Homo sapiens: one gene and its partners. The protein of the gene in region 1 interacts with the protein of each later gene in a pairwise test. Each region holds a gene or a part of one and is shown in the gene's direction. Other genes may lie near its edges. The genes, in order: WIPF1, ROBO4, SEC24C and RER1.

Region 1 (7,024 bases):
GGCAGTGAGTGAGTGAGGCAGTGTTATCCAGCAGAAGAGCAGGAAGCAAAAGGACATGACTGAATGAATTGCTTCAGGGTGTTTTAGGGAGTGATTTAATTTCTCTGAGTCTATCAAATGAGCACAGCGATGCTGGCTTCCGCTGTCTTAGGAGTCAGAGACCACGCAAGGATAGAGCCCTGGATCCAGCAGATTCTCCATACATGAGAGCTGCTGTTGCTGCTGTGGAATTTAAAATTTTCATTTTCTAGACCGCCCACTTTGAATGGGACTCTTCCGAACTGTCTTAATTCTTGTTTCCCGGCGGCTGTGACAAGTCCAGCAGTGTCTTTTTTAGCTTCTCCAGTCCATTTCTGTTCACAGAAAGCAAGCCATTTAGCATTATCTCAATAGAAAGTATTTGTTTAGGTTTCAGTTTTCCACATTAACTTGTAGTGGTTGAACTAAATGAATATTTTAAATTCTAAGAAATTGTTTTTTGCAATTAAGGGACTATTGGGAGTTTAAAAAGCCTGACACAGTGGCTCACACCTGTAATCCCAGCACTATGGGAGGCTAAGGCAGGAGGATCGCATGAGGCCAGGAGTTCAAAACTAGCCTGGGCAACATAGCAAGACCCATCACAACAAAAATAAAAGATAAAAATAAATTAGCCAGGCGTGGTGGCATATGCCTGCAGTCCTAGCTAAGCTACTCAGGAGTGAGGCAGGAGGATTGCTTAGGCCCAGGAATTTGAGGCAACAGTAAGCTATGATTATGCCACTGCATTCCAGCCTGTGTGACAGAGCAAGACCTCATCTCCAAAAAAAAATTTAAAAAAATTTTTTAAAGAAATATAATTCTGCAGTTTAAAATTTGGGACACATGTCCTGTAGAAATAATGTTATTCAGGTGGCCAGTGACCCAGACTGCCCGCTGGCTTAAGGCTCGATCTCTACATAGGGCTTTAGTGCGTATGAATCACCCAGGGATCTTGTTAAAATGCTGAAACGAATTCAGCTGGGGGCAAAAGGGACTGGGAGTTGACATTTCTAACAGCTTCTGGGTGGTGCCCACGCTGCCTATCCAGGACCACAGTTTGTGTAGCAAGGATGGGGTGGGAGAAGCTGGCATTGCTTAGGGATGAGAACAGTGGGTGAGGCGTTGTCCTAGACAGGGCAGAGGGAGCAGGGGTTCTAGTGAGGCGAAGGAACAGGACTGCAAGGATTAGAGGAAATGGGGAGAGGGCTCCTGGCTGGTGTAACTCACCAGGCACTTCCTGGCCATCGTCTCTCCTGGCCCTGGTGTTTGCCAGGCTGCCCTCTCCGCCCTGCCCCCTCACCCACCTGGGGTCCCTAAACTTTCCTACCCAGCTACGGAATCTGGTCTTCCCTTTGTTTTCAGAGCAAGCACACTCTGCAGAAAGGCTCTTCTTTTTTATTTTATTTATATATAATTTTTTACCCAAACAAAGCTAAGACAGGCTCTTCTAAATGAAATGCATTTCTGGTAAACAGCCTGGGAGTCCTAGGTCTGACTTCTCATGCCCGCTCTGTTTTCGCTTAGATCCTCTGAGGAAATGCTAAGGAGCACAGAGATAGGGATGGCTGGTCTTTGAGTGCTCCAAACATAAGGTTGACCCCCCACACGTCCACCCCGCCTCAGCTGCTGCTCCCTGCTTTCCACCTGACATTCTCCATGCCCTCTCCCTGGAGGACTAGGAACTTTGAGGGCGGGACTAGAAGTAGATTCATTTTCATATTCCTGCAGTGCACACACAGACTTGGCGAATGTCAGGAAGAATGGGAGGAGAAAGCCAGAGGGGGTGGGAGAGCATGAAAGGATTGTCATGGAAATTAGCGAAGAGGAGAAGCCACTTGAAGTGAATTTGTTTTCAGTGAAACTTGGCCAGGATACATCCTAGCAGTTGTGTGAGACCTTCCTGCTTAACTGGGCCCACCTGGGTCGGTCATGGCCTACTGTAGTGGGTGGGGGAATGGAGCCGAGTAAGGCACTGGATGTGGCCTCCATTCTCTCCAAGCACCTCGGGTCAGAAGCCCCTCTGCCGGGATCCTTCCAGAACAGTAATGTTTTAGCAGTGAGGTGTAAAGGTAAGCCCATCTCTTCTAAGAGTTGAGCTAGGTGGAGCTGTCACTTTGGTGGGAAAGTGAAGACAGATTAGGACAGTATTACTAAGATTACATCTAATACATGATCGCATTCTTGTTTTTCCAGATTTATCAGCAAGACTGTTGAACGCATAACTGCCCAAGATGCCTGTCCCTCCCCCTCCAGCACCCCCGCCGCCCCCGACGTTTGCACTGGTGAGTGTCTCCTCCCCAAACACTTTCTATGCATAAAGCAAGCCAAATGAAGCCAAAACCTGGCGTGCATGTGTTTGTATTAAATGTGTTTGCATTCTGGCTCACATGTGATACAACAGGCTTTCCCAGTGCCCAGGGTAAGCCAAATCCTGAAACCCAGCAAATACAAACAACACGAAGGGTTTTGTTTGTTTAAGGTCTCGTGTGATGGATAGTACAAGGGTGGAATGTGGCTGATGAGGTGTTTTCTGCCGCATCTGCGCAGGGACATGTGCTGGCCCAAGATAGGGTTTGCAGGATCAGTTCTGAGACCAGTGTGCACTGTTTTCATTCAGATGAACTCAATGTCTGGCCTTTAACTTCTGGGCTGGACGGTCTAGAAACCCAGGTCTCTGCCTGCAGTGCATTCCATTAAAGTGTCTTCCGGTCTCACTCCTTTCTTTTTTTCTGCCTTTTCCCCTCTTCTTCCCAATCTGTTTTTGACAAATATCTCCCTCCACCACCTCTGCCATACACATTCACATCCTCCTTTAAATCTATACTTGCATTTAGGCATTTAGATGTTTATTTCCTGAAAGAATTTCTTCAGTGGATTCATCCTGGTCTTTTTTTTTTTTTTGAGTCTCGCTCTGTCACCCAGGCTGGAGTGCAATGGCACGATCTCAGCTCACCGCAACTTCCACCTCCCGTTCAAGTGATTCTCCTGCCTCAGCCTCCCAAGTAGCTGGGACTAAAGGCAAGCACCACCATGCCCAGCTAATTTTTGTATTTTTAGTATGGACGGGGTTTCACCATGTTGGCCAGGCTTGTCTTGAACTCCTAACCTCAGTTGATCCACCCACCTCGGCCTCCCAAAGTGCTGGGATTACAGGCGTGAGCCACTGTGCCCGGCTCATCCTGCTCCTTTGATAGACCTCTTTGGGGAAGTTAGTGTGCCCTCTTCAGGAATTTGGCAACTCTCCACTTGGTCATATGGAAAGGCCCCAAGATACGCTCTGTTACAAAGCCCTCTCCAGCTTGTGAAGCCTTCACTGAGGAGGAGCCTCACACTGATGGTTCCTTCATTTTCACCATTTTCACATGGGGAAACTGAGGCTTGGAGAGAAAGTTTCTTGCCCCAGGTTTCCATGAGACACATTTATATAACTCATCTGAGGTTGAAACCTAGTGAGAAGAACTGCCTATTAATTAGCTTATTGTTACTCAGAGTGTGGCCTTCCAACTGCTTTTTAAGAGTCCCCAAAGTGATGAGGACAAAAGTTGAAAGTAAGCATTTAGAAGCATTTCTAGCAATTTGACAGTAGTTTTCTGTTTCTAAGATTGGATGTTGTGTGTCTTTTTTAAAAAACTAATTCATTTTTCTAATAATTCATTGTTATTTTACAAAAGCGTCAGTTCCTGATGAAAATATTTTTCAAAAGACTGGTCCTTGGCCAGGCGTGCACTTTGGAAGGATAACTTGAGCCCAGGAGTTCGAGACCAGCCTGGGCAACATGGCGAGACCCCCATATCTACAAAAAAAATGTTAAAAATTAGCCAGCCAGACATGGCGGTGCGTGCTTATAGTCCCAGCTACTCTGGAGGCAGAGATGGGAGGATTGTTTGAGCCCAGGAGGTCAAGGCTGCAGTGAGCTGTGATTGCACTACTGCACTCCAGCCTGGGTGATAGAGCAAGACTCTGTCGCAAAAAAACAAAAAACAAAAAAAAAGTTGGTCCTTCACATGGGTAAGTTTGAGAACCTCCAATCTGGCTTACATAGCAGGATTCATTTATCCATGTTTCCCCAAAAGTGTGGGCTATAGTGAACTGACTTAATAAAAAATATTAAATAAATAACACAGGTGGTATGAGAAGATGACAAAAATCATGAATCTTATACCAGAATGCTTGAAGTTTGGGAAACCTTGCTTATCTTATCAACTCATTTCTATCCGTTGTTACCTAATTCAAAGCAAGATTTTGGATAAATAGAATATAGAGATGAAGAAAGGGAAAAGGTGGGTTGGTGGCCATCATAGAACACTGCCCTTGTGAAACAACATAATTAAGGGCCCTGAACATGAGAGAAGTTAGCACCCAGGGAGGTCAGCTGTCAAAATAAATTTTGAGGCAGAACAGGAGGCTACTGAAGGTTGCTGACCCAAAACTGTTAAGAGATCCAGTGTGACACATCACTTAACCTCTCTAGGCCTCAGAGTTTTTTCATCCTTAAAATGAAGACAGCAGGTAATGTTAAGAGCTCTTTTCCAGGACATCCAAAGTATGTTAAGTTGAAAACAAACAAGTTGCAGAACAATAGAGGAGAATCCCATTAGCAAAAGCAAACTGTGTATGCAGAGAGCATTTCTGGAAGGACAGCAGAGAAACTTTTAACAAGCATGCTTCAGCGGTGTGTTGGGGCTGGATGGGGAGGGGCATTTTAGAGCCCACATTTATCCTTCTATCAGCTTGTAGGGAAGGCTCTTGACTGCCAGGGTTTGAATCCCAGCTCCTCCTCAACTAACTAGGTGCCTGGGGCAAATGATTTAAACTCCCTATACCTCAGTTTCCTTGTCTGTAAAATGGAAATAATAACTCACAGGGTTGATAAGGGCTAAATGAAGTAATACACATAAGGTGCTGAAAACAGTGCCTGGCACAGAGTATATGTTAACTATTATTATCATAAGCAAGTAATACTTCATCATTTAGTTATTTCAAGATGCTTCCAACTTTACCACTGCAATTCTGGTTAGCCTACTTCAGGGTTTTTCTGAGTTCTTCCTTTGCCTCTAACTCTGCTAATAAAAGGCTGAGTTAGGCCAGGAGCAGTAGCTCGTGCCTGTAATCCCAACTACTCAGGAGGCTGAGGCAGGAGGATCACTTGAGCCCAAGAGTTCGAGGCTGTATTGCATGATGATCACACCTGTGAATAGCCACAGCACTCCAGCCTAGGCAACATAATGAGACTCTGTCTCTAAAAAAAAATTGTTTTTTAAAGGCTGGGTAAGGTATTGAGCCATACATTTCCCCAGCTTTTCCTCCTGTGGCCCTAACTGGCAAATCTGAAATCATATCCCTGTCAGAAGGGCTGGGGCCAGCCTAGAAAGGACCTGTGGGTTTGGGGCAGCCAGACTCTCCCTGAGACAGACAAGACCTAGCCAGTTTCCAAGTGTGATAGACACAGGCACACAGGCAGGTGCCTACATCTAAGTCCATTTGCTGGTCTCTTAGTGTCCCCAACTCCCTGAAGGAACAAGATCCCAATTTCATAGTAGGTAGGGATCTTTCCTAGGAATTCTGGAAATATAAGAAAATAATCAGACATGTTAAAGCAGCATTTTTGTCCATTCCACAATTTCCATGAGCTAAGCTTTCATCAGAATTAAACATCAGAAACACCTCATGCCAACAGGACATGAGGGAACTTTTGAAGTAATGAAAATATTCTATATCTTGATTGTGACGGTGGTTTCACAACTGTATATGTTTGTCAAAACTCATAGAGCTGTAACTAAAAAGGGTGATTTCACTATGTGTAAATTACACCTTAATAAATCTGACTTAAAAAGAGAAAAAAAGCATCTTTGGCAATATACACAGAGGGAATTATTTTCTAGAACTTTAGTGGGTTTAAAAAACATACAGCTGACTCTTTTTGCTAGAGACAGTTTTTCCCTTGCACTGGGGTAGTTCTAAAAGATGGGAAAAGGAAGTTATTCTTCAGGGTACCCTCTAGTGAATGACGTCTGGTAATGTCCTGCAGAATCCTCCCAGACTTAAAATTCTTTTCTCGTGTCTAGTCATCTCACCCTAACCTGGCCCTGTTAGTTTCAGTCAGATTGTGGTCTGAATTTTCAGAGACTTTAATCAAGGACTGACTCTTCCTCCCTTAAAAATGAACATAATTTATTGCTGCATCTGCTTCCAAACGTCTGGATCTTAAAAAGAAAGATATGGGGTCTAAAACTTGTCGAGAATTTACAACCTATCACCAAGAACCTTAACAACAAGCTTCCCGTACCCAACCTTTCCCAGCCGAGTGTTACAATGCATGATTTTAACCCAAGAGATGACTACTTGTTTGTATGGCTCCCTTTCAGGCCAATACAGAGAAGCCTACCTTGAATAAGACAGAGCAGGCTGGGAGAAATGCTCTCCTTTCTGATATCAGCAAAGGGAAGAAACTAAAGAAGACGGTCACCAATGACAGAAGTGCACCAATACTGGACAGTAAGTAAAAAAAGGCTATCTACCATGGAGAGGAACAGTTTATGGCCTAATAATCAACCCTACCCTCACCACTCAATTTTTATTTTATTTTATTTTTTGGTTAACAACAGCTGCAAAGCTAGCAAAATAAGGGACTGTATCACTCCCTGTAGGCCGCAGCTTTGGCTTGGGTTCCCCTCTAATGCTGCAAGAAGCCAGTATAATAATTCTTTGTCCAAGACATACACAGCAGCAATTCTCTGCATTATTCACAACACTTTCTGGAGATTAACCCATTGCTCCTGGCACCACAGATGAGGAGGCAGCATAAAATATGGAAAGAGCCCTAGCCTTGGAATCAAAAGCTGTGGGTTCAAGACCTGGCACATCCATCCTGTACCATCTCCAAGCCTTGTTTTCTTCATTTTAAAATGGAGATGATAATACATGTTCTATTGACCTCACAAGTTTGTCATGAGCTTCAAATGAGATAATGCCTGTAAAATGTTTTGTTGTCTGGAAAGTGTAA
Region 2 (7,224 bases), on another chromosome or scaffold:
GCAGCACTGTTTATAATAGAAAAAGAACCACTTGATATACTACATATTCAAGAAAAAGACCCACTTGATATACTACAAAGACACTCCTCTGCAAAGAATCATTGCATGTCCTTTCTTCCCAACAGCACCCAATTTTGAGTGAAGCCTCACTTCCCTGGACCCTCCACGAAATCACCCAATCAAAGCCCAAATCCTAGAATAGGTTCTTTCTAACATCTCTCTTACTTAGACATTCCATAGTTCTCCATGGCATGCACTCTCTCAAGCTGCAAGAAGTAAATCAACTTGTTCAACAATAGGTATGTTCCTGATGGTCTTTGACTGGAGGGCATTGACAGGGTGAACACAAAGCACAGTAACAGATCTCCCCTTCTTCCTGGACATGTGAGCAAATGGTTAAATATTGATGTCAGCAGCCCTTGAAATCTCCAACTGGGCAATGTTTAAGCTAGGTGTGATCCATAGTCATTGGTGTCGAGAAAGTTAAGAAAATGTAGGGTTGAGAGTATTCGATGTGATTTTAGATTCCAAGCACCTAAAATCACCCATGATGTTGATGGGACCAGAAACTAGGGAATAGATGCTGTCCAGTGAAGTGGCCTTAGGGTGAGTTTTCCAGCCAGCTAAGAGGAGGTTTTTACTGTCTTCTCTCTTGACTCAATTTCCCTCCAGCTGTTGGCATCTTGGAACAAACTTGAGAATTTATAGATTGAGACCAAGCAGACTCAAGCAAAAAAGGGGAAAAAACAAGAAGGCAAAAAGTGTGAGTCTCAAATCCAAAAAGAGTATCAAGGGGTAGCTGGGACTGGCTATGGCTGTGTTGGTCAGGCATGCTGATCCCAGAACACTCAAAGGACAACTAACACATATCTAGTGTTTTCAGAGAACTTTCATGTCCATTGTCTGTAAACCTCATGCAGACATTTTACAAATGAGGGCAGTGGGACTCAGAGAGGTTATGTGACTTACTCAAGATTTCTCTGCCAATAAGAAGTGGAAGCAGGATCTCAACCCCAGTGTAACTGACTCCAAATCCCACCTGAGTTTATCCCTTTTTCTCCACCAGCTTGGCCAGCAGGAGTCTCAGATTGCATCTTCAGAGATCACAGAGCAGAAAGCCAAAGAAGCCAGGAGCCAGACATTGAAGAGAAATTTCCTCTGGAGGCTTGCTCAGAAGGGCACCTGGTGCTTCCCCTCTCTTCTCCCTCTTACAAGCAACGAAGGGGGAGTTAGAAAACACAAAACACCAGAACTAGGGATGAAGGAAGGCACTGCTTAAACTGGTCACCAGGACAGCACATCACCAGAGCCCCAGAACAGAGCTTCTCTGAAATAGCAATTGGGGCGGCTCCCACCAAGCCACATCATCCCCATGACTCATGCAGTCGGCTCTTCCTTAGTTTGTGGAAATGAGACAATGAGGATGCGGATGCACCAGGTTGCTGGAAATGAGCCCTGCAGTCTCTGGGAGCCATCCAGACATACCCTACTGTTGGGAAGTCCCCTCGGCCACCACCGCATGTCACTCTGAGTGCCCTGGAGAAAAAGTTCTAGTGTCCTGCAGGAACAACTGAGGAATCTGCCCCTCCAATCACCTTCAGGTGTTAGCACCTAGCTCTCCAAAACCTGGGAGTAGGGTGAGGCTCTGCTGAAGGTGATCTCCAGGCACGGGGCATGTGACTGTGGGGCAGGGGACATTCCTCGGGCTGCAGGAGCCTCTGGGGCTCTGTCCCTGCGGTGCACACAGACCGTTTCACCTCTCCTTTCTCACCCTGCTGAGGACGGGGCTAGTGATGGATTGGAATTCCTTTGAGATTTGCCTTATTTTCCCCTGAGGGAAACCTAGCGTCTTTCTGGATTGTGGAGACTGGAGTAAAATCCAGTTGGCATTAAAACATTAGCGAGCACTTAATTAGTGTCCCCAAAACCAATGTAGAAGCAGAGGAGACTAAAAGCAGACTGCTGACAGTGACATTCTTGATAAGCTGATAGTCAGGGAGTCAGACAGTCTTGGAGGCTTTGTACCTGGGAAATCCCAAATTGGCCTCCTGTGCAGTAAATCCTCCAATCCCACCACATCCTTTCCTGTCTCATCCTCAGCTGACTTCAGTGTCACATGAATCTCCCCTTCATCACTCTGGCCCCACAGATCCTTGACCCCATAAACTCGACTCCATTCTGCCTGCCCCACAATAAATACACGTTAGCTCAGCTTTACGGATCACTCATAATGCATCAGGCACTGGATGCCAGTGGTTTTATGCTTTATGTATTTCATCATTACTTTATCCCTCAAGGTAGGAACTACTATTACTATTTCCATTTTACAGAGAACTACTATTACTATTTCCATTTTACAGATTTGCCCAAGGTCTCCACAGAAGCTGATTTCATCCATCTCTGAGCTGAATATGGACACATCCTGTGGGAATCTCCCAGCTTATCCCAGACGCTCTGAGTCCTTCTTGTCTCCCACCCTACTCCACCTAGTGGTCCATCTGCCCCTGGGGAAATGGACCAGGGCGTTACAATCCACCCCTGCTCCACTTCACTCAGCCTCTCCAGCCTGCAGCCCCACTGCCCTCTGTCCTCAGCTTCTTGCTGTGTCCTGAGACTCCCGGGGTTTTCATTCCTCTCTAGCAGGTGGTAAAGGGATAAGGATTGGGATCCAGGGATAAGATTTAAATAGAGGATTAAGGCTCTGATTGGAGTTATGGTTAGTGTAAGGATACACCCACAGAATTTGGGGTAGGAATTGGGGCCAGAGAACAGAATTTGGGATTTCAGAATTAGAGGTGCCAAGGGTAGTGACATTCTGTTCTCTGGCCCCAATTCCTATCCTTCCAGCTCTGCCACTCCATGACTTTCACTCTGCCTATTCTTTAGCCTCTGCAAACTCCCCAGTTTGTAGAGACCATGGTGTTTCCTTGCTCCAGTTCTGTCTTTGTCAGTATTGGTCTGAGTTTGAGAGGAAAGAGGAGGAGTGAAGGAGACTTCTACTTGGCAGGCTGTTAGTCTGTGGCTGGCACCGAAGCCAGGATGGGAAGGGGGAGGAAGGGAGGGCGTCAGCTGGGTTAGGGGCCCTGCAGAGAAGCTGGCCAGGAACAATTGGGAACAAAGGCTGGATACTCTTCCGCTGAGCCCCAGAGCCTGGCCTTGGCCTTCCGGGAACAGCTCCAGGAAATGGCTGAGATTCCAGATTTGGAAGGAAGAGGCCAGTAAACATGAGCTGGGATCTGACAGGGGAGTGTGGCCTCTGTCTAGGTTGTGGGGGAAAGGAGGCAGCGGGCAAGAGCTGACATTGTAGGCTCAAAACCTGCAAGGCCTGTCTGCTACATATATGGACACAGGCTCTTGGGACTGGAAAGACTCTTAAAAGGTCTTTTACTCCAACCACCTTTCCAGGGCCTGAAAAATACTCCTGCCGAGGATCCTCCAATAGTTTCAGTGATGGGATGGGCCTAAAAAGAAATACACAATGTTGGCTCAGCTTTACGGATCACTCATAATGAGTCAGGCACTGGATGCCAGTGGTTTTATGCTTTATGTGTTTCATCATTACTTTATCCCTCAAGGTAGGAACTACTATTATTATTTCCATTTTACAGAGAAGGAAACTGACTTGCCCAAGTTCTCCACAGAAGCTTATTTCATCCATCTCTGAGCTGAATATGGACACACCCTGTGGTAATCTCCCAGCTTGTCCCAGATGCTGAGTCCTTCCTGTCTCCCACCCTACGCCACCTCCTGGTCCATCTGGCACTGGGGAAATGGATGAGGGTGTTACAATCCACCCCTGCTCCACTTCACTCAGCCTCCCCAGCCTGCAGCCCCACTGCCCTCTGTCTTCAGCTTCTTGCTGTGTCCTGAGACTCCTGGGGTTTTCACTCTTCTCTAGCAGGTGTCAAAGGGATAAGGATTGGGATCCAGGGATAAGATTTAAATAGAGGATTAAGGCTCTGATCGGAGTTTTGGTTAGTGTAAGGATACCCTGTAAGAAATCCCCGAGTAGATCATGAGATAAAGCTTAGCGCTGAAGTTAGGGTCGGGGGTTATAGCTAAATGGTCGAGGTCAGAGAGTTTCTCGCCTCTGGTCTCCTCCCAGTTCTCCAAGGCACTGAGGGCCAGGCAGGAAGCATCGGTTTCCTCAAAGCCGCTTCCCTCCTGGGGCAGAGTCTCGGTCACAAACAACCACCACCGGCCCACCCCGCCCCTCCTTCCCTCTTCACTGTGAGCTCAGAGCAGCAGGACAAAGTGCTCGGGACAAGGACATAGGGCTGAGAGTAGCCATGGGCTCTGGAGGAGACAGCCTCCTGGGGGGCAGGGGTTCCCTGCCTCTGCTGCTCCTGCTCATCATGGGTGAGTTGCTCTCCCTCTCCTGGCCCATGCTCCTCCATCCAAGGCCTGCTCAGGGCAGAAGGGGCCTGCTGACTGCCTGCTTCCCTTTTGCAGTGGGGGGACCAGAGATGAGGATGAGGATGATGATGATGAGTGTGTGTAAGTGTATGTGTGTTTGTGCATGTGCGCACACACCAGAGAGAGAAAGAAGGAAAGAGAGACTGAGAGAGAAAGAAAGAAAGAGAGAAAGTAAGAGAGAGAGAGAGAGAGAGAGAGCGAACATGCTATGCAAGCCCTGGCCTGGATGCTGTGCATGCTGGCCCTCTCTCCTCCTAGCTGGCTTGTTCTTTGGGAGGCAACCTTTAGTAGTTCAGATTACAGGTTTTCTGGCAAACTCGCACACAAGAGAAGACAGATGAGGGGTGGGCCAGGAATTTGGGGTGTTGCTGGTGATCAGACTGGGCTCTGCTCCCTTTCCCTCCCAGGAGGCATGGCTCAGGACTCCCCGCCCCAGATCCTAGTCCACCCCCAGGACCAGCTGTTCCAGGGCCCTGGCCCTGCCAGGATGAGCTGCCAAGCCTCAGGCCAGCCACCTCCCACCATCCGCTGGTTGCTGAATGGGCAGCCCCTGAGCATGGTGCCCCCAGACCCACACCACCTCCTGCCTGATGGGACCCTTCTGCTGCTACAGCCCCCTGCCCGGGGACATGCCCACGATGGCCAGGCCCTGTCCACAGACCTGGGTGTCTACACATGTGAGGCCAGCAACCGGCTTGGCACGGCAGTCAGCAGAGGCGCTCGGCTGTCTGTGGCTGGTGAGGCCTGGGAGGGGAGCTTCAGGGTGGGGCAAACCTGGGTGGAGACATCTGAGCTGAATGTTCAAGGGAACATCTGAGAGGTCAGTGGGATACCTGTGAGCAGAGGCCTGGGCTGGAAGGCTTGGGAGGGCAAGCTGGGGCGGGGCTGGCCCTAAATGGGAGGCCAGGAAGGTGGGCAAAGCAGAAGGGGGCAAGAGTGATAAGGGAGAGAGAAGAGGCCTGGGCCCTGCTCCGTGTCACCTTCCATCCTCCCCACAGTCCTCCGGGAGGATTTCCAGATCCAGCCTCGGGACATGGTGGCTGTGGTGGGTGAGCAGTTTACTCTGGAATGTGGGCCGCCCTGGGGCCACCCAGAGCCCACAGTCTCATGGTGGAAAGATGGGAAACCCCTGGCCCTCCAGCCCGGAAGGCACACAGTAAGTGTGGCCCCCTCCCCCACACTTCATCCTGGCCTGGGCAGACCTGGGTACACCCTGATGGACTGACCTGCCGTCCAGCCCCGCATCCTCCGGTAGAATTTGAGGAGGGGAGAGCAGGGGGCCTCAAACTTCCCCCCAGCTCAGAGCCCCTCCCCACATAGGAGACTTCACAGTGAACCTGGCCCTGACAGGTGTCCGGGGGGTCCCTGCTGATGGCAAGAGCAGAGAAGAGTGACGAAGGGACCTACATGTGTGTGGCCACCAACAGCGCAGGACATAGGGAGAGCCGCGCAGCCCGGGTTTCCATCCAGGGTAAGGGCAGGGGTGGGCTACAATCAGAGCCAGGCTGCAGGCTCCAGTTGGGGTGGTGTATTCTGGTTTGGGCTGGGGTTAAGGTATGTGGGGTCAGGGTCAAAGTGCTGGGGGTCTCACGTAGCGGGAGGTTCCCCCCTGCTAGAGTAGAAATCGGAATGCTCAAGACCTGGAGACTCTGGGAGTTTGGGTTCCCTGGGGTTCCTCCCTGGCTGAGGGATGTTCCACGCCTCAGTTCTGTCACTCTGGCCTATAAGCCCCAGCCCAGCCCTATCCTCCCCACAGAGCCCCAGGACTACACGGAGCCTGTGGAGCTTCTGGCTGTGCGAATTCAGCTGGAAAATGTGACACTGCTGAACCCGGATCCTGCAGAGGGCCCCAAGCCTAGACCGGCGGTGTGGCTCAGCTGGAAGGTGAGGACCAGGTGCTAAGGGTAAAAGCCGATCCAGAGCTCAAGAAAGGGCGTTCCTGAGCTCTCTGACCCCCCGCCCTTCCTCGAAACTCCTTCCCAGGTCAGTGGCCCTGCTGCGCCTGCCCAATCTTACACGGCCTTGTTCAGGACCCAGACTGCCCCGGGAGGCCAGGGAGCTCCGTGGGCAGAGGAGCTGCTGGCCGGCTGGCAGAGCGCAGAGCTTGGAGGCCTCCACTGGGGCCAAGACTACGAGTTCAAAGTGAGACCATCCTCTGGCCGGGCTCGAGGCCCTGACAGCAACGTGCTGCTCCTGAGGCTGCCGGAAAAAGGTCAGGGCCTGATCCCTTCAGAAGCCAACAATATCCCCTCTGGCTCCTTCTTATTTGGGGGCCCCTGGACTGTTCTGCTTCAGTCTTGAGGGGAGATTATGGGTCCTACCCTGGGACTCCCTTCTGCCCTGGCCAGGCCAGCAGAGCTTCAAGAGGCTTCTTGTCTCTTCAGTAGGGTTCTGACGCTGTGTCCCCCAGCCCAGCTCCTTTCCCTAGAGTCCTCTCCCTCAGAGCCCCTCATAGTCTCTCTTCCACCCCTCCAGTGCCCAGTGCCCCACCTCAGGAAGTGACTCTAAAGCCTGGCAATGGCACTGTCTTTGTGAGCTGGGTCCCACCACCTGCTGAAAACCACAATGGCATCATCCGTGGCTACCAGGTACCCCCACTAGCTGTCATAGCCCTTCCTACTGCTGCCAGGACATCTCTTTTCTCTGGAGTTCTGCATACCCTTGCTCTGGGCACTGAGAAAGGTACCTGGGCAGAGAAGCAAAGGAAACCTGCTTTTGCTGAGCAAGGACCCACTGGCTTCCAGACCCTGCCAAGCACTTGACCTCCATGATCCCGTTTTACCTCACAGTCCACCCTGGGGTATTATC
Region 3 (7,024 bases), on another chromosome or scaffold:
AGATTGTGCCACTGCACTCCATCCTGGGCGACAGAGTGAGACTTCGTCTCAGGAAAAAAAAAGTATATGGGAGGTTATATGCAAATATGATGCCGTATAACCCACATCCAATTCTATTGATTCCACCTTCAAGATGTATCCCAAATCTCACTACAGTCATTCCTCAGTATCCATGGGGGAATGGTTCCAGGACCTCCCCTGACCAACAGATACCAAAATCCACAAAGGCTCAAGTCCCTCATATAAACTCTATTCAAGTAGAGATGTTAGGTAGGCAGGTGCATATACAAATCTGCAGCTCAAGACTGATGCTAGGACTGGAGATAAAAATTTGGGAGTCCTCAGTCTATAGATATTTAAAGCCGTGGGACTAGATGAAATCATTTAAAAAGTGAGTATTGAGATTAAAGAATGGAATTGAGGACTGAGACTTGGAGCTTAGCAACATTTAAAAGTAAAGAGGAGCCGCCATTAAAAGACAATGAGGGGCCAGGTGCAGTGCCTCACTCCTGTAATCCCAGCACTTTGGGAGGCTGAGGCAGGCAGATTGCTTGAGCTCAGGAGTTCGAGACAAGCCTGGGCAACATGGTGAAACCCTGTCTCTACCAAAATACTAAAATTAGCCGGGTGTGGTGGCACATGCCTGTGGTCCCAGCTTCTTGGGAGGCTGAGGTGGGAGGATGGCTTGAAACCAAGAGGCGGAGGTTGCAGTGAGCCGAAATCGCACCGCTGCACTCCAACCTGAATGACAGAGTAAGACCCCATCTCAAACAAACAAAAAAAAAACAAAAGACAATGAGAAAGAGCAGTAGTGAGGTGGGAGATAAGCCGGGAGAGTGTGGTGTCCTGAAGTCAGGTGAAGAGAGTATTTCAAGAAGGTGAGAGAGTAATCAGTTGTGTCAGATGCTGCCAAATTGTAAGATGAAGATGGAGAATTGACCATTGAATTTGGCAAGGTTGGCGTCATTGGTAAAGGCAGTTTCAGTGTAGAGATAAAGAAAACTACCCAGTTGGAGTGAGTCAGAGTTTCAGGCCAGGCGCGGTGGCTCATGCCTGTAATTCCAGCACTTTGGGAGGCCGAGGCGGGTGGATTACAAGGTCAGGAGATCGAGACCATCCTGGCTAACACGGTGAAACCCCGTCTCTACTAAAAATACAAAAAATTAGCTGGGCGCGGTGGCAGGCTCCTATAGTCACAGCTACTTGGGGGGCTGAGGCAGGAGAATGGCGTGAACCCAGGAGGCAGAGCTTGCAGTGAGCCGAGATCTTGCCACTGCACTCCAGCCTGGGCGACAGACAGCGAGACTCCGTCTCAGGAAAAAAAAAAAGTTTCAACCGGGTGGTAGATTGACATAATCTGAAAACCCTCTGCTACCAAAGTCTAGAAAGGAGAGAGAAAATAGAAACAAAAAAAATTTTTAAGTGCAAAGTTAAGCTTGAAAGAAAATGTGAAATTCTTAAGTTTTAGAGACCAAGTGAGGACTGAAAATCTTTTTTTTTTTTTAAATACAGAGTCTTGCTCTGTCGCCCAGGCTGGAGTGCAGTGGCACGATCTCTGCTCACTGCAACCTCTACCTCCCAGGTTCAAGCGATTCCCCTGCCTCAGCCTCCCAAGTAGCTGGGACTACAGATGTGGGCCACCATGCCCGGCTAATTTTTGTATTTTTAGTAGAGATGAGGTTTCACCGTGTTGGCCAGGCTGGTCTCAAACTCCTCGCCTCAGGTGAACCGCCCACCTTGGCCTCCCAAAGTGGTGGGATTACAGGCATGGGCCACTGTGCCTGGCCATCAAGTGAGGACTGAAAATCAGAGTGGTAAATTGACTCTGGAGCTGCCTGTAGATTGGGTGGATTCATCATCTTGAGAAGCCAGGGCCTTAAATTTAAGCAGGTACTGGGGAAGGCAGATGAGTCCTTGGGCTTTCCTGAGAGTAGTTTTGGAACTGAGACATTGTTTATAAAGTCTGGACCTGGGCTGCACCTTCATTGAACAAGCTGACTAGGGGAAAAAAGTCTGCACGCTGGAAAGGGGAGATAAGGAGTGCTGTTTCTCTCAGGCTGGCTGTGGATGGGTGAAAAAAAAAGTTCTTGGGACTGCAAATGGACATGACATCTTTTTGGAATGATGAAAATGTTTTAAAATTTGATTCTGGTGATGGTTGCATAACTAAATTTACTAAAAATCATTGAATTGTTCACTTGAAGTGAATTTAATGGTATGGAAATTACATCTCAGTAATATTTTTTTTTTTTTGAGACAGAGTTTTGGTCTTATTGCCCAGGTTGGAGTGCAATAGCACGATCTCAGCTCACTGCAGCCTCTGCCTCCTGGGTTCAAGTGATTCTCCTGCCTCAGCCTCCCAAGTAGCTGGGATTCCAGGCATGACCACCATGCCAGGCTAATTTTTTGTATTTTTAGTAGAGACAGGGTTTCACCATGTTGGCCAGGCTGGTCTTGAACTGACCTCAAGTGATTCACCTGTGTTGGCCTCCCAAAGTTCTGGGATTACAGGTGTGAGTCACTGTTCCTGGCCAATTTTTTTTTTTTTTTTTTTTTTTTTTTTTGAGATGAAGTCTCGCTCTGTCACCCAGGCTGGAGTGAAGTGGTGTGACCTTGGCTCACTGCAACCTCCACCTCCCAGGTTCAAGTGAATCTCCTGTCTGAACCTCTTGAGTAGCTGGGATTACAGGTGTGCACTACCACGCCTGGGCTAATTTTTGTATTTTTTTAGTAGAGATGGAGTTTCACCATGTTGGTCAGGCTGGTCTTGAACTCCTGACCTCAAATGATCCATCTGTCTCGGCCTCCCAAAGTACTGGGATTACAGGCATGAGCCACTGCACCTGGCCTAATTTTTTTTTTTTTTAAATTAGAGGCCAGGTGCAGTGGCTCATGCCTGTAGTAATCTCAACACCTTGGGAGGCTGAGACAGGAGGATCACTTGAGGCCAGAAGTTTTAGACCAGCCTGGGCAACATAGGGAGATCCTGTCGCTATAAAAAAAAAAAAATAGCTGAGCATTGTTGGTGTGCCTGGGAAGCAGAGGTGGAGGCAGGAGGATTGCTAGAGCCCTGGAGGTTGAGGCTACAGTGAGCCATGATGGCTTCGCTGCACTGTGGCCTGGGTGCCAGAGTGAGACCCTGTCTCAAAAACTAAAAAAAAAAAAAAATCAATCTAGGGTGACACTGTCATTATTGGAGTACCTTCTGGAAACAAATGTAGAACAACCACACCTCAGTCCGGGCTGGAAGGGATTATCGGAGAAAGGCACTTTGATTAGAGTTGGGCCAGGCACAGTGCTCATGTTTGTAATCCCAGCACTTTGTGAAGCCGGGGTAGGAGTTCAAGACTATCCTGGGCAGCATAGCAAGACCCTGTCTCTACAAAAAATAAAAAAAATTAGCTAGGTGTGGTGGTGTGTGCCTGTGGTCTCAGATACTTGGGAGGGGAGGCTTAGGGGGAGGATTGCTTGAGCCCAGGAGGTCAAGGCTGCAGTGAGCCACAGATAGTGAGTGCCATTGTACTCCAGCCTGGGTGACAGAGCGAGACCCTGTCTCAAAAAAAAAAAAAAAAAAAAAAAAAAAACGTAAGGCTGGGCACGGTGGCTCACGCCTGTAATCCCAGCACTTTGGGAGGTTGAGGCGGGCGAATCACGAGGTCAGGAGTTCCGAGACCAGCCCGGCCAACATAGTGAAACCCCGTCTCTACTAAAAATACAAAAATTAGCCAGGCATGATGGTGGGCACCTGTAGTCCCAGCTACTCGGGAGGCTAAGGCAGGAGAATTGCTTGAACCCAGGAGGTGGAGGTTGTGATGGGCCAAGATCGCACCACTGCACTCCAGCCTGGGCGACAGAGTGAGACTCTGTCTCAAAAGAAAAGAAAAGAAAAAAAAAAGTAGAGACAGAGTATAGACCTATTCTTTTGTAATGTTTAGCTAAAAGGGGAGCAAAAGTTTGAGGGGGCTGTGAGGTAATTTGGTTGGATTTTTAAAAAGTTTTTTGAGATATAATTCATATACTGTGCAATTCGTCTGTTTAAAGTGTTTTTGTATATTTAGTGGTTTTTAATATATTGACAGATATGTGCTGTCACAATTTAGTATATTGACAGATATCACTACAGTCAGTTTTAGAACATTTTCATCATCTGAAGAAGAAATACTGCATTCTTTAACTACCCCTGTTTAGCTATTCCCCCATTCCCCTATTCTTCCAACCTTAAGCAACTCCTGATCTACTTTCTGTCTCTAAAGATTTCCCTATTCTGGACTTTTCATTAGAATAGAATCATATACTATGTGATATTTTATAACTGACTTCTTTAATTTAGCATAATATTTTCAAAGTTCAACTATGTTGTAGTGTATATTAGTACTCCATTCCTTTTTGTGGTTAAGTGGTTTTTCATTGTGTAGCTACATGCCACATTTTGTTTATCCATTCTTCTGCTGATAGACATTTGGGATGTTTCCACTATAGTTGGTTTTTGTGTGTGTGTGTGTGTGTGTGAGATGTTTGTATGTTTTTGTGCTGATGGGAATAATCAGAGAGGGAGACACTGAATGGAAAGTATATTGGAAAGACACTGTGGTAGACTGAGGCGGGCAGATTCGTTGAGCTCAGGAGTTTGAGACCAGCCTAGGCAACATGGCGAGACTCCGTATCTATAAAAAATGCGAAAACTAGCCACGCATGGTGGCGTGTGACTTTCGTTTCAGCTACTTGAGAGGCTGAGGTGGGAAGATCAGCTGAGCCTGGAAAGTTGAGGCTGCAATGAGCTGTGATCACACCACTGCACTTCAGCCTGGGTGGCAGAGTGAGACCCTGTCTCAAAAAAAAAAAAAAGCTGGACAATCAATCTGCATTTGTTTGATTTCATATTTATTAAGGTTCATGCATGCTTATGCGTGCCTTCCCTTTCAGTGCTTTCAGGGCTTCAGATTACAAAACTGAAGAGGTTTGTCAAAGAATTGAAGCAGAGGAAGCAGTAATTTAGTTAGCAGAGTAAATAGTACTTGACCTGAAGGTGCTTGGTTTATGTTTGTGGAGTGAGCTTAATGGAAAACAAGATTTGCCATGAATAATCAGGAATATAATTTACCCACAAATATACAAAAGTATGAAGCCATAAAAGAACTCAGGGTGTGAGAGTAAGATGTCACAAAACAATGTAGCTTCCTGTATGATGTGACACTTCTGTAGACTTCAAAGGGTGTCCTGGCCCCACTAGTCACCTCTGCTTGCTTTCTTTTCACAGGCTGCCTGGGTCTCAGCCATTTGGGTCCCCATTGGCCCCTGTGGGCAACCAGCCACCTGTGCTTCAGCCCTATGGCCCTCCCCCGACAAGTGCACAGGTGGCTACGCAGCTGTCTGGAATGCAGATCAGCGGTGCTGTGGCCCCAGCCCCTCCTTCTTCAGGGCTGGGCTTTGGTGAGTGGCTGTGAACACAGGAATGTTACTGTCCCCTGTTCAGAGGCATCAGACTCTGGGGTTATACCTGAATCTCTTTTATTTCCCTTGTATTTCCTGTGCCTCTGAGCCTCAGAAGATGGGACAGTCATATTTGCCCCTCTTGTGTGGAAAGGGAAGTGATATACCGAACAAGGAGGCAGAATGACTGGGCTTTTGACTCTACCTTTATTCTACTTCTCAGGCCCACCAACATCGCTGGCTTCAGCCTCAGGAAGTTTCCCTAACTCTGGTCTGTATGGCTCCTATCCTCAGGGCCAGGCTCCTCCCCTTAGCCAGGCCCAAGGTCATCCTGGGATCCAGACTCCCCAGCGATCTGCCCCATCACAGGCCTCCAGCTTCACACCCCCAGCTTCAGGGGGTCCTCGGCTGCCTTCGATGACTGGTCCACTCCTGCCTGGACAGAGTTTTGGAGGGCCCTCAGTGAGCCAGCCCAACCATGTGTCTTCACCTCCTCAAGCTCTGCCCCCTGGCACCCAGATGACTGGGCCCCTGGGACCACTGCCACCTATGCACTCCCCGCAGCAGCCAGGCTATCAGCCCCAACAAAATGGTGAGTCTTTCCCAAGGTCTGTCTTAGAAGCTAGAGGCTTCAGCTACTCAGGTGGTTTTTGATGTTTTTTATTTGTTTGTTTTTAGTATTACTTGCTAAGTGGTGAATTAGATGGGTAGCTTCAGGGTATTATTCCTAGGATATGGGGTTTGTAAGACATTATTTTTTCTTGTCGTTCTGATAACATGGTATTTTTCTGAATGTCTTTGCCAGGCATTAGTGTGCCTCATAATTCTATGTTTTTAGGAGTCTAGTCATTTTCCTGAGGCCTTAAGAAGAGATAGGGATGGGATTTTGAGTTCATCAACCTTGTGTCCTTGTCTCAGGTTCCTTCGGACCAGCCCGGGGCCCTCAGTCTAATTATGGAGGCCCCTACCCAGCAGCACCCACCTTTGGCAGTCAGCCTGGGCCTCCTCAGCCACTGCCTCCTAAGCGCCTGGACCCTGATGCCATCCCAAGCCCTGTAAGTAGAAACTTTCATGGTCCTGAGGAAGGGTTTGTGTCTGCCAGATAGGCAGGTCAATCTAGATGAAATGTTTGCCTAGCATTTTCTGATAATTTTCCCTTTTTGTTCATCTTCTTGGAGAACTTACATATAATTTGATTCTGAACTGGAACTTGAGGTTCTAGGAGTCTTTTGGGGGGCTGTTTTACTCTATAGCTGGGCAGAGAAGGAAGGGAAACCAAGAGTGAGCAGCAGCACCAGTAGATGTCTGAGGGCTGCACTCTGTCACTACTGTACATACATAGTATAGTAGCCTTTGTCCTTCTGTGGAGCAGTGACTGGGTCTTGTCCCCTTAGATCTAGAAGGATGGCATTCTTCCTAATGGGTAGAGCAGGTGGGAATTCTCTGATGTTAGATGTTAAGAGAAGGAAAGCCTCACTGGTTTCTCTGCTCTTACTTGGACAGTTTTAGGAGGAAGTCCCCAGTACTTTTGTTTGGTAGGCTTCTGCTGTGTGGATGGGGAAGAGTGAACGACAGTTTATGAGGGCAGTGTGTA
Region 4 (7,024 bases), on another chromosome or scaffold:
CTGGCGTCTTCTCTAGCTCAGGGGCCAGGAGGCCTCTCATCTTTAAAGTAGGAATGACAACCGGCAGGCCCTGGGTACTGAGCTGTGCTTTACCGAAGAGCGGCAGGTCCTGACGCCGTCTCCTCTCAGGAGTGGGGTGGCGGCGTGCTCAGCTGAGGAGCCAGGTGGCAGTCAGGCTTGGCTTGGCCTGCCCAGAAGCAGGGCTGTGGCAGGACCTTGGACACGTGGCTTCCACTGTTTGAGACTTGGTGAAATGGGGGTCATGATGCCCTTCACTTGAGCATCTGGGAATTAAGTGGGTGAACAATGTGACCTCTGGCACCTGGGTTCTCAGGTGAATTCCTCATGGCATCACAGCAGTGTTGAAATAGGAGCAGATACGTTACCTCCGCTTGCCAGATAAGAAACTGGGACGCAGATGGATGGACTACCTGAGAGTTGTAGATAACATTTTCCTGTTCATGGGGTGGAGGACCTGGCCCTGAGAGGACAGGATCCCTCCTGCTCCTGCCAGACCAGAGACCCAGGACAGGGCGTGGAGCAGACAAGGTGCCTGGGCGGGGGAACCCTGAGGGATCCACAGAGGGTGCGGTCCTTGGAGGGAGGACATGCAGTGCCACGTGCCATGGACCAGCCAGTGGACCCCATGGCCAGCAAGGCTGCTCCTGGGGCCAGTGGGGTGGACAGTCCCGCCCACGCAGGTGACTGAGGTGCCAGTGTGGGAATGAAAATGCGGCCTGTGCTCCTGGGCCCATGCGTCTCACGCTGCCCTTCCTCTCCAGGGAAGCCTGTGTACCTGCTACTTTTTCCCGAACAATTCATGGTAAAAACACAAATGGTATATGGACAAAATACTGAATGTGGAAGAAACCTACTTGACAGTGTTGGTGAAAATAGGGCCAGGATTTCACACCCGTGAATGCTTTTTACTGAAAAGTATTTTGTGTTTTTCTCCCAGTTACAGAATGTCTGAAGGGGACAGTGTGGGAGAATCCGTCCATGGGAAACCTTCGGTGGTGTACAGATTTTTCACAAGACTTGGACAGGTTGGTGGGTTTTTTAGTAGATGAGTATAAATATTTGAAAAAGAAACGGGACTCCCAGCATTTTCGGGAAGGATCTGTTTGCTGGTGTTCCTGATGGAGAAGTTACTTCGCCTCAGGCTCAAACTTCCTGAAGACAGCGTTCTCTTCACTGTGAAGGGCCAGCTGTGGAGAGATCGGGCTCTGGGGCCACACGTGGTCTATCAAACATATGCGTTTTCTGTTTCTGTTTTCCTTTTACCAAGCTTTAAAAATATAAAACCCAGTCTCAGCTCCCAGGCAGGACAGATGCGGCCGTGGCTGCCGTTCTGCTCTTGCTGTCCCTCTCCCAGCCACCCACGTCCCCGGTGCTGGTAGCCCCACCTGCCCCGTGTCAGCTCGGCGGTTCTGTCCTTGAGGGTGAGAGGCTCTTGTGTGGGCTGCGTGTGCATTGCTTGGTGAGTGAGGGACCTAGAGCTGCCTTTGAACGCTGGAGTCCGAACCTCTGTCAGGAAAAGCTTGGGTCACCGGCAGTTCCAGGTGCTGAGGATCCGGCTCAAATAAAAATTCATCACCTTAATTAAATCACATATGAAAAGCGATTGGCGATTAATGAAGTTGGGTGACAGGCATATGTAAGCTTCTATAATCTTTTTACTTTTGTGAATTTGGAAATTTCTCACAATTTGAAAATTAAATTTCTAAATTAAAATAAAAAACCATACATATGTATATTTGTAAAAATAAATACATAAAACTAAGGGCTCCTTCGGTCATGTCCACAGCCGCCTGGACGCACACACATGTGGGTGTGGCTGCTGGGGCTCAGGCTGTGGCCAGTGGGCCTGGGAGCGGGGCAAGGCTGGCTGCTGGCTGCTGCAGATGGGGGAGCTGACTTGAGATGTGACGATAAGGGCTGTGCTGTAGGGTGGGGACTTTGAGATGCACAGTCCTCTCTTTGGGGTGAGGCTGGGTCTTCCCCATAGTGATCCCTTGGGGCCAGCACAATGTCACAGTCTCCTAGGAGATTGTTTTGTAATAGTCTTGCTTAAGAGATGAACCTGCTTCAGGAATTATTGAAAATAAACTTTGGATTAATTGTAGTCACTTCTTTGTGCTGATACATAGATGATCTCTTGCTATTTTAACTCACTCTTTTAGCTGTTTTAAAAATTGAAAGCCAACCCTAGCAGAAGGTACATTTTGTGGCAGGGTCAGTACAGAAGTTACAGGACCTGCTTCATGCTTTTGGACTCTTGTCTTTCTAGATTTATCAGTCCTGGCTAGACAAGTCCACACCCTACACGGCTGTGCGATGGGTCGTGACACTGGGCCTGAGCTTTGTCTACATGATTCGAGTTTACCTGCTGCAGGTAGGTGTGGGCTGAAGTGACGAGACTTGGCTCTGTCCACGTTACCTGGGCGTGATGTTTGTGGGGATGTTGTTGATCCAGTCTGTCTTGCAGGAAGTGGTCTCTAGTAATCAATTTTCAGCTAAACGCCAAATGTCAGAAAGATCTCAGTGACTGTCTTTAACGAACAGGGTTGTTTATGATTCACCCGGAGTCGCCTCGCCAGGCTTCTCAGTATACCCAGGCCGTCCTGAGCCCAGCCTGGCCCTGCCCTGGGCACGTCCAGGCCTGGACAGTGGAGCCGCTGGTGTCCCTCCGACCCTGCTGCATGATGCTCAGGACAAGGTTGCGCTCTGTGGCTGCCTCATTCCTTGGGTGAAGAGTCCATGCCTTGGGTGTCATGAATGACTCGGCGTCCAAAGGGTTTATGTAGCTTTTCCTGAGCTCTCCCTTGTGTGAGGCCAAAGCACAGTGCAGGTTGAGACGCCGAGTCAAGTAAGAGAGACAGTGACCGAAGGGGGTCTTGAGGGTTTCCTTCGTGTGTTTTCGGGCACCCCTAGGTCAGGTGATGTCGTCTCAGACTTCACCTGGGTGCTCCTTTACTTGCTGGTAAACACGGGGTTTCTAGGAGCAAACCTGTAAGATGGGAATTCTTCGTCGGTCTTTAGAGGAGGTTACATAATCTTATGTGCAGAGCAGGGCATGTTGAAAGCCTTGTCTGGGCTATTTTCTCCTCTGGGGACTGTAGAAGATACTTCCTTGTTTAAAGCACACACCTTAATTTATTTATTTATTTTTGTTTTTAAATTGGAACTGGGTCCATTCTCTGATGGAAAGAATGACCTAGAAATCTTGAATCAGGGACTTCAGGCAGGAGCAGGGGGCGGGAAGAGTGCAGCACCCACAGGTCAGTTTTATTGCGTTCGAAACCAAGCTCGTGCCTCATTTGGCGTCTCTTCAGGTGTGGCCCTGCAGCCGAGGATGGACACACAGACATCAGTTAGCCCTCACATCCGGCGTTCAGCCGAGGATGGACACACAGACATCAGTTAGCCCTCACATCCGGCGTTCAGCCAGGGATGGACACACAGACATCAGTTAGCCCTCACATCTGGCGTTCAGCCGTCTGACTGGAAAAGCTTTTAGGCAGAAAGACTTCTTGTTTGTATAAGAAAGTTAAAGCATTTATATTTTTATTTATTGTTTTGAGATGGGGTCTCACTCTGTCGCCCAGGCTGGAGTGCAGTGGCCTGATCTTGGCTCACTGCAACCTCCACCTCCTGGGTTCAAGTGATTCTCTTACTTCAGCTTCCCGAGCAGCTGGGATCACAGGCATGTGCCACCATGCCTGGCTAATTTTTGTATTTTTAGTAGAGACGAGGTTTCACCATGTTGGCCAGGCTGGTCTTGAACTCCTGACCTCAGGTGATCCACCCGCCTTGGCCTCCCAAAGTGCTGGGATTGCAGGCGTGAGCCACCACACCCGACAGAAATTTAAGGCTTTTGAAATTGAGAATGCGGTTCTGGCTTTTAACGGGATATGCTTAATCATTTTAAAAAATGAATTAGTTGCAAATAAGTGTGCTGCACTCAGGCATCTTGCCAAAATTCTCCCCACTTTTCATCTCTTGAGGAAGGCTTGGCATAAGCACACTTTTCTGGATTTCCCAGTTGTGGATTTCTTCTGGGCAAAGGTTTAACCCTCCTGGCAGAGTGTTTTTGGCAATGTGAATTGTCTGTTGGAGGAACATCAGCCAGCACGCCTCCAGTCACAGTTGAGAGTCTGTCTTCTGTTTCTGATGAAGCTGCTCCTGGGTGGGGCTCTGGGCCAGCATCGCTCAGGTGCCCGGGCCACCCGAGCCTGTGGTGTAGCTTGAGCATGTGCTTCTTGAGAAAAGCCTCCTTTTCTGCTGCGCTCCTTGTGGGGCGTCTGTGGCTTCAGGGATCACATGTGTCTAACTGGACCCTTGAAGAGCTTTGCTCATTTGGGCCCTTGCTTGTCCGCTTTGTCTCTGTTCCCACAGAGTATAATTTGAGATAAATTGTTACCATGGGATTTCACTGTATTTCCTTGTCCTTGCTATGAGTAAGTTTTGTGTTAAAACAAAGTTAGATCAGTTAACAAAGTTGAGAGTGAACCGGAGTGCAAACGTGAACTGGCTCAGGCTGATGGACGGTCAGAGTGCACCACTGACTCTCTTTCCTTCTCTTTCAGGGTTGGTACATTGTGACCTATGCCTTGGGGATCTACCATCTAAATCTTTTCATAGCTTTTCTTTCTCCCAAAGTGGATCCTTCCTTAATGGAAGACTCAGGTAGGGTAGCGGCTGTGCACTGGGCTGTGTGGGCAGGTTGGGCCTTTCTTTTCTGATGGGATTGCCCAGTGTTCTCTGGAAACACCCGAGACTCTTCTCTTGGGGTTGAAATGTACTTGTAATGTTGGGTGATCAGGATATGTTTGTAGAATGACTCTTCAAACCCTCCTGACAGCCACGAAGTGGGTGTTCATTCTGTTTTCCCACTTTGCAGATGAGGAAACTGAGGCATACAGGGTTAGGTAACGTGTTCGAGGTCACATGGCACCACAGACAGTAGGGGTCTGAGGTGGACAGTCCGACTCCAGCCCCCGTCCCACCCCAGTCAGTGGTCCCTCTCAGAATCAGCGGAGGCAGCCATGACGAGGTTACCTTTTCCCGTAGCCAGAGGGTTCCACAGGCAGCTCACTGTGGTGCACAGAGACCGCCGGGACTCTAATGCCAGCATCGGGTCGGGTCAGGCTTTGGGCGGCCTTCTCTGGTTTCTGAGGAGCTGTGAGCTGAAGTGTTCCTGGTGCTTCGTGCTCCACTATTGGAAGACTTACGCAGCTCCTGGGCCTGCCTGGGCCAGGTAGGGGCCCTGAGTTCATGCCTGACTGGCCAGCCCCAGGCGAGGAACAAACAACTGCATTCCAGGACGTGGTGGCCATTGAGGGAAAACCCACACGCAGCTCCCTGCCAGGACCCTCCTCGTTCTGGGGGAACCTGCTGTCAGGGAGTAGGGTATGCTCTCACTGTGTGGCCAGAAGCCTGTGAGTCTTCTGTGTAGGATATGTGATGAAAAGATTGCTGGGAACACAGCCCCTCTCTGTTGTTGCTGTTTGGAGGAGACTAGAAAATAACAAAGAGCCCCTTTCCTGTAGGCCTCAGTTTTCCCATCTGTAAATGGGGAGCGGCACCCATCCCAGTGGGGGAGGCGGGGTGAGAGTGGGCTTGGCACAGCTGCTGGTGGGACAGGCCTGGCGCCCGGGTTCCACGGTCAGCGCATCCTCGGCCCCGCCCTGTTCTCTGCCGCTTGCTTTTTATGTTAATTTGCCTTTGTTTTCTTCTGTGCCTTTACGTGGTGCAGCTGACGTGTTCCTGGATGTTTATATGTGGTTGAATTCTTCGTGCATTGAAAACGTGTGGAAGTCTAAAAACATTCTGATAGCACCTTCTGAAAGCAGTGAATTGGATGTGTCAGTTGACCACAGACCCCCGTTTTCTCGTTTTCTCTGGTTAAATGACATGAATCTCGGTTTAGATTTGTGAGGCCTGCTAGTCCAAAGCCTTGAGGGGAAAAGGTAGAACTGTGATGGGAATGAAAAGAGGTGCCCTCCCTGATGGTTGCTCTGCCTTACAGATGACGGTCCTTCGCTACCCACCAAACAGAACGAGGAATTCCGCCCCTTCATTCGAAGGCTCCCAGAGTTTAAATTTTGGTGAGCTAATTCTTCACGGTATTTGAAGAGAATTGTGCTCAAGGGTGGCTGAGACTGAGACTACACTGATTTTTGTTCAAGTCACCTGAAAGATGACTGCTGTGCTGGGCTGGGCACGGGGAATCGCAGGGGCTCTCTGTAGAAGGCCACTCACTACCTTGCCGCATTCTCTTGGTTTCAAGTCAGCACCAGTGCCCTGGAGGTTGAGTCTGGGATGGAGTGCGCACCGGCTTCTGTGGTTGTGGCCTGGGGAGGGCAGGCCCTCTGTCCTCCCTCCTCCTCCCTCCTCCTCCCTTCCTCCCTCCTTCCTCCCTCCTTCCTCCCTCCTCCACCCTCCCTCCTCCCTCCTCCTTCCTCCCTCCTTCCTGCCGCCTCCTCCCTCCTTCCTGCCTCCTCCTCCCTCCTTCTCCCTCCTTCCTCCCTCCTCCTCCCTCCTTCCTCCCTCCTCCTCCCTCCTCCTCCCTCCTCCTCCCTCCTTCCTCCTTCCTCTCTCCCATCCCCAGCCTTGTGGCTCCTTTTGGCTGGCAGAGGGACTAGCCTTCTCCTGGAGTCATTTTTGAGAGGGGTTTGAGCCGAGGTGTCCGTGTCTGCACGGGTAGGCAGAGGTGGGTGGTGCAGCCGTCAGAGGGACGGGAGCGTGTGCATCCGTTTGTCTTGTCCCTCATACCCCACTCTGGGAGCACAGGAGGAACCCAAGTCTGTTAGATCAGTAAACTGAAGGAGCCTGCTGAGCTCGTGGGGCTCCACGCCTTGACTTTGCAGCCGCAGATGGAGTGTGGTACAGAAAGATCAGGGGCCCTGGAAGCCACCAGAAGCTTGGACTAGGAAGGGAGAGCTGAGCCTCCAGGGCCGTGGCATCTGTTGGCCATGTGCTGGGACGGGAGGGAGCACTGGTGGCCATGCCACAGTGACAA

The links.
Region 2: the proteins of WIPF1 (region 1) and ROBO4 interact in a two-hybrid assay, tested with the Homo sapiens proteins (one study listed by IntAct).
Region 3: the proteins of WIPF1 (region 1) and SEC24C interact in binary tests that used the Homo sapiens proteins (3 or more experiments, as listed by UniProt).
Region 4: the proteins of WIPF1 (region 1) and RER1 interact in binary tests that used the Homo sapiens proteins (3 or more experiments, as listed by UniProt).

What each region holds. Positions count from the first base shown.
Region 1 is NC_000002.12:174,580,802-174,587,825, reverse strand, and holds part of WIPF1 (WAS/WASL-interacting protein family member 1), read left to right. Parts: intron 1-99; exon of another isoform or gene 100-353; intron 354-2,214; 5' UTR 2,215-2,252; coding exon 2,253-2,303; intron 2,304-6,386; coding exon 6,387-6,516; intron 6,517-7,024. UniProt on the Homo sapiens protein: Plays a role in the reorganization of the actin cytoskeleton. Contributes with NCK1 and GRB2 in the recruitment and activation of WASL.
Region 2 is NC_000011.10:124,894,861-124,902,084, reverse strand, and holds the start of ROBO4 (roundabout homolog 4 isoform 1 precursor), read left to right. Parts: upstream 1-4,219; 5' UTR 4,220-4,289; coding exon 4,290-4,359; intron 4,360-4,823; coding exon 4,824-5,153; intron 5,154-5,414; coding exon 5,415-5,572; intron 5,573-5,766; coding exon 5,767-5,887; intron 5,888-6,172; coding exon 6,173-6,300; intron 6,301-6,399; coding exon 6,400-6,628; intron 6,629-6,891; coding exon 6,892-7,004; intron 7,005-7,224.
Region 3 is NC_000010.11:73,754,365-73,761,388, forward strand, and holds part of SEC24C (protein transport protein Sec24C), read left to right. Parts: intron 1-5,257; coding exon 5,258-5,430; intron 5,431-5,653; coding exon 5,654-6,022; intron 6,023-6,348; coding exon 6,349-6,485; intron 6,486-7,024. UniProt on the Homo sapiens protein: Component of the coat protein complex II (COPII) which promotes the formation of transport vesicles from the endoplasmic reticulum (ER).
Region 4 is NC_000001.11:2,394,826-2,401,849, forward strand, and holds part of RER1 (protein RER1), read left to right. Parts: intron 1-958; 5' UTR 959-965; coding exon 966-1,046; intron 1,047-2,290; coding exon 2,291-2,395; intron 2,396-4,589; coding exon 4,590-4,689; intron 4,690-6,031; coding exon 6,032-6,110; intron 6,111-7,024. UniProt on the Homo sapiens protein: Involved in the retrieval of endoplasmic reticulum membrane proteins from the early Golgi compartment.